4 linked regions of the Homo sapiens genome follow. The protein of the gene in region 1 purifies or fractionates together with the protein of each later gene. This does not show direct contact. Each region holds a gene or a part of one and is shown on either strand. Other genes may lie near its edges.

Region 1 (3,500 bases):
TCATGGGGCTCGGTGCCTCGGAGGGTCCTGTGGGGTGGCTTTGGAGAGGCAGCTGGCCTCCCTGGCTGACCCTCATTGTGGGGGTCACAGGGCCTAGGGTGGGGTGTAGGGATGGGTGCTGTGACCAGTTTGGAGAGAATAAAGTGATCCCAAAGGCCCCGTTCCTCCCCTACCAGCCCCCAGCTAAGGGGATGCTCAGAAGAAGCCAGTGCCTGCGGGGCGCCGGCTGGGAGACGCTCCTGCCACATTCAGCCCTGGCTGGTCGGGGCGAGCCTGAGCAAACCCCAGGTTTGTAACAACAGAGCTGACGATTGGACAAGCCCGTTTCTTGTCAGTTTTAAAAATAGCCGTGTGGGAACCCCTCCGAGGCTCCCTGGGAACATAATTGGATTGGTGTGCAGAAGGCCTCGCTGAGAGGCATCAGCTAACAGATGATGAAACACATTTTCCGGCTGCATTTTCCTGAAGGTAGTTGCTAGGTTTCTCCTTCGGAGCTCTTTGTTACCTGAGCGGTCTCACCGTCTCCCCCACCTCCCTGCTTCTCACTTTTCCCTTCGTTTATTGCTTCTCCGCTTGCACAAGACCATGTCCCGGGGCAGTTCTTTCCCCCTTTCCAGGATGCGTGCTTGCAGGGGAAACCGCAGCTGGCCTGGTCCACAGGTCTTTGGAATTTCTGAGCCTGGAGAAGAACCTTGGGACTTCTTTAGAAGTTCCTTTTAGAGATGATTGGTGTGATGATATTTCTCGTATTTCTCGCTACTCCATTGGCCTCCCTGGGAGGGCGAAATACACTTTGGCTAGCCCTAAATGAGGAGAAAACCGAATTCATCTAAGTGCTACTCACCGTATCTTTAAAAAGTTGAACCCCAAGTTAATCCTAATTAATGCCCAGAGATTTTTCATGTGGAACCCAAAACAGGACCCAGGACACTTTTGCGGGGGAGGGGGGGCTTTTCCCGTTCCTGCGTGGAAGCAGAATTAGCAACGCTTTCACCAGCAGCGAAGGAGAGGGGAATAGGATGCCACCCCCTCTGAACTGTGCCTAAGCGTAGCTGCGCTTGGAGCAAGGCACAGTTTTTAGGTTGTGTTTTAATTAACACCGACGAGAGGGGCTTCTGGTCAACCCAGAAACGTTGACTTCACTGTCAACAGTAAGAAATGCGATTTGGAGACGGTGCGAATGTGACTGTGTGATGTTCTGTGCTCCCTGGCCGCCACCCCAGCACCTAGGCTGGATTCGGCATCTCTCCACGTGTTAAAATGATAATAGTAATAAATCTACAGTTCCTTTTGTGTGGTCATCAGAATAAGCCAGAATCATTAAAATAAGCCAGAAACACTGCTTAGGAGAAAAAAATGTATTAAAAAAAATAGTGCCATTGCTCAAAAGCAATTGGTGGGTTCTTTCTGTGCTTCGAGTACCTGAGCACTTCTTAACCTCCCTGATCAGAAAAGCCTCTTCTTGCAGCTTGTTGCAAAGAGGCCCTTTCAGGCTTATTGAATTGCAAATGCCGCCGGGCGACACCCGACCCCAGAAGGGCTGGAGCTTCCTAAAGCCGCTGGAGTTTCCCAGATGTGCGCCTAGGGAGCACCTGGAGAGGGGCTGGAAGGCGGGGTCGTGTGGGTTTTGGCCCAGTGGTTACTGGATGGTAAACAGTGTGGAAAGTTTCTGAGGACATGCTGGTGCTTCTGAGCGAAATCCAGGCTGGTAGGCAAGGGAGCCGCCCCACCCCCACTCCTGGGCCTCAGATCTCCCACAGGGCGGTCCCGGGACCCCCTTCCTCAGCTGGAATCCTGTCTACCCCAAGCCAGTTTGGATCATGCTGTCACAACACTTTTGTCCACGGAAACAATGACTTTTTTTTTCCAGGACAGCTGATTTTCCTCGAGAAAGTGCCCTCAAATGTGTGGCCCATGGAAGGGGGAAGTCGTGCCGGGCTCCCTTCAGGCAGTTGCGCAAAGCTGGGGTGGACTCCGTTAGGAGATTCTAGCCGGGATCCGCTTTCAGGAGCCAACTAGCAGCAGTGGCCCTTTTTTGTTTGTTTGTTGTTTCTTTTAAAGTAAGGTAAATGGGGTCTCCGTTCTGCAGAAAGAGCCCGGGGCAGGGAGAGTAAAGTACTTGCTGAACTCGGTGCGCTGGGGAGGGGTGTGCACTGCTGCCAGCCCGTAGCTGTTAGAGTCGCCAATGAGCTCACTCTGCAATCAGAAGTCACCGGGGTTTTATGTATTAAGCCCTTTGGGCAAATAAAAGAAAACACTATTTGTGGAGTGGCTCAGAGCTTCCACTTAATAAGCTACTCAGCCTTCCTTTGATTGACATTGTTCTCAGAATACGTGTTTATTATCAGTCAGCTTTGGCTTAGAGAGTTCACTCTCAGAATGTCTACTTAATGTGGAAAAATGACCCTTGCGAATGGCTGGCCTCTAAACACCCGAATTGTCATTTCCTCAAAACCCTCCGGCGAGGAGGGTGTGCCTCACACGGTTGCACAGTGGATGTGGGTCTGAGTCCTACGGAAGGACTTTCGCCAGCGCCCCGGGGCAGAGTGTCCGGAGGAGGGAGGCCACACTGGTAGGGGAGGGGCGGCAAGCTGGCCACATTTGAGCAATCGGAAACAGACAAATCATAACTCTGATTCTTAACAAGACATAAAAGAGAAGCAGCAGCTGGTACCATGTCCCAGTCCGATGGTTTGGAAGTTAGTGGCAGTTGCCGGGTTGGAAGTTGTGCTGGTATTCCTTTAAATAACAAATGAGGGCCTCAGCCAACCGGTGTTCCCAGAGGAGGAGAAAGGCTGGGAGCTGAGAGGTGTCATTTTCCTTCTTTGGTGACCGGTTTCATTTTAGCTGATGCTTGACGTTGGCATCAGGTCCTCGTCTTCCTTTTTTCCCAATGCTCACTGAGACTGGGGACAGGGTTGAGAGTCCCACGATCTGATCTGCACCCCCCATCCCTTGATGGGTCCCAGAGCCTGGCCCAAGCCTGTGGCTGCAGGGAGAGGGATTTCCCCTGGAGAGGGAGGAAGCAGCCGATGGTATGCTGGTGATGGGGCAGCTTTCAGCTCAGCCCAGGGACCCCCACAGGCTAGCACTGCACACTGGTGGGCATCTTGTTTTCCATTAGTTGGTCATTTAACCAGAGCGCTAGGAAAGCAGGCCGTGCTCCCCTAAGTTTTGTCTCATAATAATTTCACGTTCATTCCTGATACTTGCTTCACTTGTTCCCAAGGCCAGTGGGATTCTTTGCTCCTTGAGTGTATTCAGACACACTCGACCTGCCCACCCCCCACACCCCCCAGCTGCTCCTCCTGGGGTGCTCCCGCGTCCACCGTAGAGAGCTGCCTAGTGACCCCTGGTGCAGCTCCAGAGAGGTCCTGCAAGCTTCTCCCCTCCACATGCAGTCAATGGACCCATCCTGCAGATTCTTCCAACAGAGTGTGTGTGCTCTGCTGGCTTCCCCTCTCTGCTTTGCCAAGCCCAAGGGGATCCACAGCGACTGC
Region 2 (3,500 bases), on another chromosome or scaffold:
TAACTTTGGTCCTTGTTTTAGAATTCGTTTTGTGGAATGTCGGTCTTTTTACTGTCAGAAGCTTTGAGGAAGGAACTTTTTAAATGAGAAGGGCTACAGTTATAACTGAGTCCAATTCTTAGAAAGCTGAAGATTTTGAATTTTTATTTGTTTTTGTTTTGTTTTGAGATGGAGTTCCACTCTCGTTGCCCAGGCTGGAGCACAGTGGCGCGATCTCGGCTCACAACAACCTCCACCTCCCGGATTCAAGTGATTCTCCTGCCTCAGCCTCCCAAGTAGCTGGGATTACAGGCACCCACCACCACGCCCAGCCAATTTTTGTATTTTTAGTAGATATGGGGTTTCACCATGTTGGCCAGGCTGGTCTCGAACTCCTGACCTCAAGTGTTCCACTCGCCTTGGCCTCCCAAAGTGCTGGGATTGTAGGTGCAGGCTGCCACGCCCGGCTGAGATTTTGGATTTTTAAACCAATTTAAGGAACCAGTTAGATGAAGCTAGAATGCTCAGTTTTTACAGTCACAGGTATCAATTTATTAAGGACTACAATGTAATTTTTATAAGCATCTTTGTACTTTAGTAGATTTGTTGGTTAAGATATAATTTCATAGTTATCTTACTGTTAGATTTTATCCATTAAGGAAAGTGGTATTCTGGTTAATAATGTAGATGAGCCAGGCGTGGTGGCTCATGCCTGTAATCCCAGCACTTTGGGAGGCCGAGGCGGGCCGATAACCTGAGGTCGGGAGTTCGAGACCAGCCTGACCAACATGGAGAAACCCCGTCTCTACTAAAAATACAAAATTAGCTGGGCGTGGTGGCACATGCCTGTAGTCCTAGCTACTCAGGAGGCTGAAGCAGAAGAATTGCTCGAACCTGGGAGGCAGAGGTTGCGATGAACCGAGATCGCGCTATTGCACTCTAGCCTGGGCAACAAAACCAAAACTCCATCTCAAAAAATAATAATAAAAATAATAATAATAATAATAATGTAGGGTGAGTTCCTTTAATGTTACCATACAGACTACACAAATTTCAGAATTTAAACTATAGTGCACATAGAAAAATTAGGCCATTTATAGGACAATTGGAAATGTGAACACTATGTCTTGATATTAGGAAATTATTAATTTTGTGAGGTGTGATGATGAATAATTAGTTTTGCAAGTAAAGAGTCCTTGATTTTAGAGAAACCTACCAATATATTTACAGAAGAAAGGATACATTGCCTGTGATTTGCTTCAAAATAATATGGCAAGAGGTAAATTTGGCAAGGATATAGATGAAACAAAACTAGCTATGAATTATAATTGTTGAAGCAAGGTGATGGATTTTATTAAGCTAGTGTTCACTCTTCTCTGTACTAATATTTCTAAATTTCCAAAAGAAGAGGCAAGTCAGTAAGCAAATAGTACACAACTAATAAAATTCAAGGGACTATGTTTTTCCTCTTAATGTAATTCTTAATATATTGATATGCTTAAAATGTATGCACAACAGTTATTAGAGACATTGGTTAACAGATGGTGTGTTGAATAAATCAGCTTTTTCTGTATTGAACTAGAAAACGTATAATTTGATAATTTAATAGATGAAGGTATAACTTTGTGTTTCCTTCTACCAGTTCCTTTTTTTTTTTTTTTTTGAGACAGAGTTTCACTCTTGTCGCCCAGGCTCGAGTGCAATGGCACGATCTCAGCTTACTGCAGCCTCCACCTCCCAGGTTCAAGCAATTCTCCTGCCTCAGCCTCCCAAGTAGCTAGGATTACAGGCATGCGCTACCACGCCTGGCTAATTTTGTATTTTTAGTAGAGATGGAGTTTCTCCATGTTGGTCAGGCTCATCTCAAACTCCCACCCTCAGGTGATCCGCCCACCTGGGCCTCTCAAAGTGCTGGGATTACAGGTGTGAGCCACTGCGCCCGGCTCCTTCTCCCAGTTCTAATTGATTTGAAGTTTCAAAAAGCAGGCCGGGCGTGGTGGTTCATGTCTGTAATCCCAGCACTTTGGGAAGCCGAGGTGGGTGGATCACTCGAGGTCAGGAATATGAGACAAGCCTGGCCAACGTGGCAAAATGCTGTCTCTACTAAAAAAATAACAAAAATTAGCCTGGCATGGTGGCACGTGCCTGTAGTCCCAGATACTCAGGAGGCTGAGGCAGGAGAATCACTCGACCTAGAAGGCGGAGGTTGCAGTAAGCCGAGATCACTCCACTGCACTCTAGCCTTGTCTGGGCACGGTGGCTCACACCTGTAATCCCAGCACTTTGGAGGCCAAGGTGGGCAAATCATGAGGTCAGGAGTTCAAGACCAGCCTGGCCAACATGGTGAAACCCCATCCCTACTAAAAATACAAAAAATTAGCTGGGCATAGTGGTGGGCACCTATAATCGCAGCTACTCGGGAGGCTGAGGCAGGAGAATTGCTTGAACCCTGGAAGTGGAGGCAGCAGTGAGCTGAGATCGCACCACTGCACTCCAGCCCAGGCAACAGAGTGAGACTCTGTCTCCAAAAAAAAAAAAAAGCAAAAGTATGTTGTAAAGTTTGATTAAATTTAATTTTGGTATTGTCCAGAGAGTTACTAAAATAGTAAAGTAGGCTTTTATTAAATATGGATGTTACCTGTTTTATTTAAAGAAATTTTGAACATCTTATACCTGATGCTCCTGAACTGATACATGATTTTCTGGTGAATGAGAAGGATGCAAGTTGCAAAAGGAATGCATTTATGATGCTAATTCATGCAGATCAGGTGAGGTACTTTTTAAAAAATACTCTTATTACTGTATTTAAGTGACAATTGAAAGTATTACATAGACTTAATCATGTTTTTAGTCAGTAATTTTGTTTATAGTTCATGTGGTTTGTGTATTTTGAAATTTTTAAGCTTGTAGAAAAATACATTTTTTTCTTAACCCTTCTCTAAAATATTGCATATGTATACATTCTTTTTTCAATTAAACATTGAAGAGGCATTTTAGAGCAGCCACCCTACAGTTTTTAAAAATTAAAATTATTATGACTGTTCTTTCCTATGATGGTATAGATCTAAAATTGTTTAGTAGAGAAAAATAGTAGCTTTGCATAGATACATCCTTAGCCATGCCTGTGGAAATAGGGTGGCCTTCAGTGTAGAGGTGTATCCTTTTAGGTTCTTCAACTTTCATACACGGGTGCCAACTCCACATCCTGCTCTGCTGGTGGTTAAAGTACATGGATCTACTTTTGGTTAGCAATTACTCTGTACACCTTGATGCCATCTAATCTTGAAATTTTCTAGCCAGTATTTATCACCAAAATATGGGAAATAATATGCATGAAGTCTGAAAAATATGGAGGCCTTCCAGTCCTCTGAAATCTAGACACTGTGACTTTTTTCCCCCAGATCTTCCTTTAATGGATTGTCCCCCAGTTATTTAAAATTGTGGTAACATACACATAACAAAAAAATTTACCCTCTTAACCATTTTTAAGTGTTCAATGATTTTAAATACATTTATAATGT
Region 3 (3,500 bases), on another chromosome or scaffold:
TGGAGTCTCACTTTGTTGCCCAAGCTGGAGTGCAGTATTACAATCTCGGCTCACTGCAATCTCCGCCTCCAGGGTTCAAGCGATTCTCCCGCCTCAGCCTCTGGAGTAGCTAGGATTACAGGCGCCCACCACCATGCCTGGCTAATTTTGTATTTATAGTAGAGACGGGGTTTCACCATGTTGGCCAGGCTGGTTTTGAACTCCTGACCTCAGGTGATCCACCCGCTTTGGCCTCCCAAAGTGCTGGCATTACAGGCATGAGCTACCGTGCCTGGCCTTGTTTTCCATTTTTAACAGTAGAGACACTATGTTGGCCAGGCTGGTATTGAATTCCTGGCCTCGAGCCTCCCTTCTGGCCAAAGTGCTGAGATTATAGGCCTGAACCATCATGCCTGACCTAAAATATCTTTTCACAGTTGATTTATTTGAATCTATATGCAAAGCACACGCTATGCATTTGGTTTAATGTCTCTTAAATCTTTTAATCTCTAACAGTTCTGCCTCCCCATTAAAGAAAATGCTATTTATTTGTGGAAATAATCAAATAATTTATCCTGTTGACTTTTTCACATTCTTGATTTAGCTGACAACTCCCTTACATAAATTACATTTTTGCCTATACTAATAACATTCATAGAATCAATGCGTTTTGTTATAAAGAATGATAAAGCTAGGCACCATAGCTCACGCCTATAATCTCAGCACTTTGAGAGGCCGAGGTGGGAGGATCACTTGAGTCCCGGAGCTGGAGAACAGCCTGGGCAACATAGTCAGACCCTCATCTCTACAGAAATTTAAAAAATTAGCAGGTGTGGTGGTGCATGCCTTTGGTCCCAGCTACTCGGGAAAAGGCTAAGGTGGGAGGATTGCTTGAGCCCAGTGGGTGGAGGCTGCAGTGAGCTATAATCGCCCCACTGCACTCCAGCTTCAGTGACAGAGTGAGACCCTGCCTCAAAAAAAAAAAAGAATGATAGATAAAGTATTAAGAAAGTGGTCACTTTCTTCCTGATCTCACTTCTACTGCTGAGAAGCCTTCAAATCTGTGTTTATACTTTTCCACATGCACCAGTCAAGCCATATTTTGTGAATTTGTCTCATAAATAAGCACATCCTTCCCAACCTTTTTGTTTTTACCACCATTTGTCCTTCCCTTATTCATTTCAGCCCATATTTATTGAGTGCCTACTGTGTGCTAGACCCTGGGTCATAGCAGTGACCAAGATAACAATCCCCACCTTTGGGGGAAGCTGATGTTTTAAGGGGGAAGATGGACACAAAGCAACATCAATATGTAAAATAAATAGCATGTCAGAGGCTGATAAGAGCCAGGGAGCAAAATAAGGCAGGAACGGCAGTGGGGTCTTCTGCATTGTTAGGCATAAGCTTGTGCTCATTAAAAACGAAGCACAGGCCAGGCGTGGTGGCTCACGCCTGTAATCCCAGCATTTTGGGAGGCTGAGGTGGGCAGATCACCTGAGGTCAGGAGTTCGAGACCAGCCTGACCAACATGGAGAAACCCCGTCTCTACTGAAAATACAAAAATCATCTGGGCGTGGTGGCATGTGCCTATAGTCACAGCTACCCGAGAGGCTGAGGCAGGAGAATCGCTTGAACTGGGAAGCAGAGGTTGCAATGAGCCAAGATCACACCACTGCTCTCCAGCCTGGGTGACAGAGCGAGACTCTGTCTCAAAACAAACAAACAAACAAACAAACAGAATTGCTCCTGCTCTGGTGTTCTGCCTGGCTTCTAGCATCATCATTTATTAAACAGTCCCCTGCTGTGTGCTTTGTCCCCTGCCGTACACCCCTGCTATCTTTTGTGCACGTGAGCAAGTGTGTCCCTGGGCTTCACACCTAGAAGAGGAACCTCTAGGTGAGAGACCCTGAGGGCAGCCAGCTCATCCTTGAAACAGCCCCAGAGGAGAGTGCTGTGATAACCCTGGTGTTTTAGCATAGGGAACTGAGGCTCCCAGAGGGGCAGGAGTTCTGTGGAGGTGACACAGCCGGGCAGTGGTGGAGTCCCAAGCCCATCCCTGGTCTCCTCCTAGATTGGGGCCCAGCTCCCCTACATCCTAGTTTGGTGACCTTGGAGAGTCACCTCTTCTTAAAGCCTCAGTTTCTTGATCTGTCTAGCAGGAACATTAATGGGTTCTTTTGGAGAAGAAACGAGGTAATCACAGTGACCACTTGGCATAGTGCCTGACACAGAGCGGGAGCTTCCACACACAGTGGTGATCCTTGGTCTTTCTGTGTGGATTTGGGGAGATTGCAGGCCCAGCGGGTACTCTTTAAACCTGGCCTTTCCCTCCCTTCCTTTCCCTCCTCCCTAATCCTTCTCATTTCCCCACCTCACTCTCCTGTCTCCAACCAGCAGATCTCATCTCTGTTTCTCATCCCTTCTTGCTCTGGCCTTGCTTCAGTTTTCTTTCTTTTCTTTCTTTTTTTTTTTTTGAGACATGGTCTCCCTTTGTCACCCAGCCTGGAGTGCCGTGGTGTGATCTCGGCTCACTGCAACCCCCACCTCCTGGGCTCAAGCGATCCTCCCACCTCAGCCTCCTAATTAGCCGGGATCCTAGGCACACACCACCATGCCTGGCTAATGTTTGTATTTTTGTATTTTTTTTTTGAGATGGAGTTTCGCTCTTGTTGCCAAGGCTGGAGTGCAATGGTGCCATCTTGATTCACCGCAACCTCCACCTCCCGAGTTCAAGCGATTCTCCTGCCTCAGCCTCCTGAGTAGCTGGGATTACAGGCATGCGCCACCACGCCTGGCTAATTTTGTATTTTCAGCAGAGACAGGGTTTCTCCATGTTGGTCAGGCTGGTCTCAAACTCCCAACCTCAGGTGATCCCCCCACCTTGGCTTCCCAAAGTGCTGGGATTGTAGGCGTGAGCCACCACGCCCAGCCTAATTTTTGTATTTTTTGTAGAGACGGGGTTTCGCCATGTTGCCCCAGGCTGGTCTCAAACTCCTGGGTTTAAGTGATCCTCCCCTCTTGGCCTCCCAAAGTGCTGGGATTACACGTGTGAGCCACCGCACCCATCCTGCTTCAGTTTTCTAACTCCTTGACACTCAAAGTGTGGCTGGTGGAACAGCAGCATCAGGGCCCACCTGGGAGCTTGTCAGACATGCAGAACCTCTCCCCCTACTCCAGACTCCACCCTGAAATGACTGAATCAGAGTCTGCATTTTAACATTTTAACAAAATCCCCAGCGGATCTGCTTGCATGAAGAAATCTGAGATGTACTACCCTGAACCTCAGTTTGACCTCCGGAATCATACCACTGTTTGCAGGGATTATTTGGGAAGAATAGGTTGGATCAGACCAGCTCATGGTCAGGCTCTCATAAATAGTGGACACTTGTATTGCCTTAAATCCTCCTCCCCAACCTGTATGACCATCTGAGGTGACCACTCTACCTGGTGAGTCCTGGCTCTGTCAGCTCTGGCTGTGTGACTTGTGCCGAGTGACTTAACCTCTCTGAGTCTTGGTTTCC
Region 4 (3,500 bases), on another chromosome or scaffold:
GTCCTTATATGCCAGCTGCAATTCCACGTGTTTAACCCTCACAAAAAGTCCATGAAGTCAGTGCTGCTACCACGCACTGACTACAAACAGGAAAACAAAGGTACAGGAGATGAAACAACCTGCTTGAAGTCACACTACCAAGGCTGGAGGCCTGCAGCAAGGCAGTATGGCTCTACAGTCTGTGCCCACAACCACTATGCTGTACTGTCTGTACACATCTTCCCCACTTGAAAAGGCGGGGCCAGGCCGGGTGCGGTGGCTCACACCTGTAATCCCAGCACTTTGGGAGGCGGAGGCGGGCGGATCACAAGGTCAGGAGATCGAGACCACCCTGGCTAACACAGTGAAACCCCGTCTCTACTAAAAATACAAAAAAAAATTAGCCGGGCGTGGTGGCAGGCGCCTGTAGTCCCAGCTACTCGGGAGGCTGAGGCAGGAGAATGGCGTGAACCCAGGAGGTGTAGCTTGCAGTGAGCCGAGATCGCGCCACTGCACTCTAGCTTGGGCGACAGAGCAAGACTCCGTCTCAAAAAAAAAAAAAGAAGAAAAGAAAAGGCAGGGCCAGGGGCTAACTGCTGCCTGCATACTCTAGTCCCCCAGCACAAAACCTGACATTCAGGCCGACCCATTAAATCAATATTGAACACTACTGAATAAACCAGAGATGGGCTCTGAGAAAACTGGGCAGAAGGCTGGGTAGTACCCCCAAGATACCTGGAAACCACTAAGGAAGTCCTCAACGAGGGGTCCAGTGTAGGCAGTGACAGGCACATAGCTGTTGAGCTCAGCGAGGCGGGGCTGTGATACCTCGGCCCGGTTTTTACCGATGTCCTCCTCCCGCAGGTAGAACTGTAAGGGTGTGCAGTAGGGAAAAAGATGAAATGGCTGTGGCACCGGGAACAGTGGTGCCTCGGGAAGGGGGAAAGGGGGAAGGGTGCTAGGAAGAGGTACCTGGGAGGAAAGATCAGCCCACTGGGCAGTGCCCTGGTCATGTAGGGTAACAGCCTTGACCCCACCAAGGATGATGTTCTTAGCGATCTCCACGCCCAGGCCCCGCAGGCCTGATACCAGGACACTGGATGTCTGGAGCCGCTTCATTGCCTCATGGCCCAACACATACCTGCCAGGTTAGGGGGTACTCTAGGTCAGGGCCTGCCCCACCCAACCTTATCCTCTCAATGTCCCATTCCACACCCCTCAGCCCGGCCTTGGCCCCACTTACAGCTGCCGGGAGTAAAGGCCCTCGTCTATGTCTGCTTCACTGCCGTTCTTGGCCATTCCCTAGGAATAGAGGAAAAGAACAAGTTTAGGGAGACACACAGGAGTGGAGCATGGATAGACAGACAGTGATACAAAAGACTTTCCCACCCACCACCTCGTCTGCCAGTCTCCACGGAGAGGACACTCACGTTGGTTGGCACCGAGGGCACTTCGGACAACACGGACTGGGCAGGGGAGCAGTTAGAACCCGGCTTTGGATCAGGCCCGGACACGCGACGTTTCTTGGACAGCGGCGAGCTGGACATCTGGAGGAAAAAAAGGTCAGAGGTGACCCTGGAGCACATGGGTACCGTTTTTCTGTTTGTTAGTAGCAACTGTGGGGGAAGGGAAGACTTAAGTATTAGTACCCCCATTTTACAGCAAAGAGGGGACAGGCACAGAAAGGTGAGGACTTGCCCAGGGTAACACAGCTGTCAGACCTAAGATCTGAACCCAGGTGGTCTGATTTGCAAATCCACACTGCTGACCACTAAGCCATTTGCTTCTTCCCAGCCCAGCATAATGAGGGAGAGACTCCAATCCTGGAGTGAAAGGAATGACAAGAATGTACTTGTGTCGAGGTCAGGGGAAGGATGTGGATTCAGGACAGACCTGGTTTCAAATCTTGAGCCTGCCACGCACTAACAGTAATAATTAACCGCCACAGGCCTCAGTTTTCTCACCTGTGAAACAGGGGTGATAATACCACTTACCTTCCCCACGGGGTTATCGAGATGATAAATAACACAGAGCATAGAACCTGGCACAGAGTAGGTAGGCAGTAACAAGCAGCCATTCTCCTCTCCCTTAATCCCAGGGATGGCGGCGGGAGCGGGGAGTGCAGGAGGGAAGTGAGGCTTGGACATCCATCAGGGTGGCATGATGGCAGGAGCGGTAACTTGCTGAGAACCCAGTCCCCAGAGGGGCTCAAGTTTTATAAAGCCCAACCCTGCCCCCAGCTTTGGGAGGGGAAAACCGACACAGACCAATAAAAGAGGTTGCAAAAAGATAGAAAACAAACACATCCCAAGCCTCATCTGCATGCGGAGTCCCTTAAACAGGTTAACCACAATGATAAATGAGTATTAGATTGATCAGGAGTCCTCCTTGTGCCAGATGCCATAGTAAGCACTTCTCTAAACCTCGTCTCACTCTGTCCTCAGGGTACTCCTGTGGGGTTTGGACTGCTATCAATAATACCCCCAACTTTAAAGTGATGGAAAAAAATTCACTCAGGGACGTTCGGTGACCAAGGTTCCCACACACTGAGCTGGGACCAGACCAGGATCTGCTGACTCTGAAGCCCAGGCTGCTTCCTCGTGTTATCACGTTTCATCCCCTCCATGACCCTGACCCAGCAAGGCAGAGTTTAGTGTCCTTGCCGGACAAATGAGAAGTAACTTGCCCAGGGTCACCTGCTAGGTCCCAGAGACAGAACAATAAAGCCTGCTGTGGAAGTGAAATCTGGTGGTGGGGGTGACTGGGTCCACATGCTGGAGATGGGAGGACCCAGCGTCACTTCCCCTCACCCCAAGTGCTCCTCTAGGCACTGAGTCTTCTGTTCACACAAGTCCTCCCACACTGAGACTTTTATGACACTAAGTATCCCAATGTACCTAAGATTCCATCTTGGCACTTGTCACTAGCACCAACCACAATGACAAGAGCTCCCTACTATCTACCAAGAGCATACTGTGTGTCAATCAAAGAGGAAAGGGCTTTGTCTAATCTTAACAATCCCCATGACCCAGATAACCCTATGCCCAAATCACAAATGGGAAAAGAAAGGCTTAGAGAACCCCATTCACTCGCCCAGAGGCATGCAGCTGGTGGGGGACTGTTTGCCAAATGCCCCTGGGCTCAGGGCCCAGTCCACAGGGCTAAGGAATGGGAGATGAGGGGAGGCAGCAGGCTGGCTGGAGCCCCTGAGATAGCCAGGTGAATTGCTTAGAATGCTAAGAGCCAACCTGGGTAGCAAGAGGCTTGGTGAGTTAGTAGAGACAAAGGTGAACCATATTTTCCATTTACTGACTCTCTGACTGACCTGGGGTAGAGATCTCATTTCCTCTGAGCCTCATTTTCTCCAAAAGCTGGGACAAATGAAACTGTCTTCAAGGGGCTGCTGGCAGGGTTAAAGAAGCCAAGGTCTGTGGTCAGAACTCACTGACCTGAGGATGTGAGTTCCTCCCTGGGCACGTGTAGTGGCCTCTATTACTTAGTTATCTCCTTGCCTTGTCATT

The links. The genes of interacting proteins can lie anywhere in the genome.
Region 2: the proteins of RIPK4 (region 1) and COPB1 purify together in Homo sapiens (affinity purification with mass spectrometry, with the first as the bait; one large-scale study listed by BioGRID). This does not show direct contact.
Region 3: the proteins of RIPK4 (region 1) and PHLDB3 purify together in Homo sapiens (affinity purification with mass spectrometry, with the first as the bait; one large-scale study listed by BioGRID). This does not show direct contact.
Region 4: the proteins of RIPK4 (region 1) and UBA1 purify together in Homo sapiens (affinity purification with mass spectrometry, with the first as the bait; 2 studies listed by BioGRID). This does not show direct contact.

The regions. Positions count from the first base shown.
Region 1 is NC_000021.9:41,760,553-41,764,052, reverse strand, and holds part of RIPK4 (receptor-interacting serine/threonine-protein kinase 4), read left to right. Parts: intron 1-3,500.
Region 2 is NC_000011.10:14,489,812-14,493,311, reverse strand, and holds part of COPB1 (coatomer subunit beta), read left to right. Parts: intron 1-2,632; coding exon 2,633-2,747; intron 2,748-3,500. UniProt on the Homo sapiens protein: The coatomer is a cytosolic protein complex that binds to dilysine motifs and reversibly associates with Golgi non-clathrin-coated vesicles, which further mediate biosynthetic protein transport from the ER, via the Golgi up to the trans Golgi network.
Region 3 is NC_000019.10:43,480,747-43,484,246, reverse strand, and holds part of PHLDB3 (pleckstrin homology-like domain family B member 3), read left to right. Parts: intron 1-3,500.
Region 4 is NC_000023.11:47,196,829-47,200,328, reverse strand, and holds part of UBA1 (ubiquitin-like modifier-activating enzyme 1), read right to left. Parts: exon of another isoform or gene 3,339-3,500; coding exon of another isoform or gene 3,305-3,338; exon of another isoform or gene 2,127-3,304; coding exon of another isoform or gene 1,974-2,126; intron 1,939-1,973; exon of another isoform or gene 1,873-1,938; intron 1,527-1,872; coding exon 1,410-1,526; intron 1,282-1,409; coding exon 1,223-1,281; intron 1,121-1,222; coding exon 952-1,120; intron 850-951; coding exon 715-849; intron 1-714. UniProt on the Homo sapiens protein: Catalyzes the first step in ubiquitin conjugation to mark cellular proteins for degradation through the ubiquitin-proteasome system.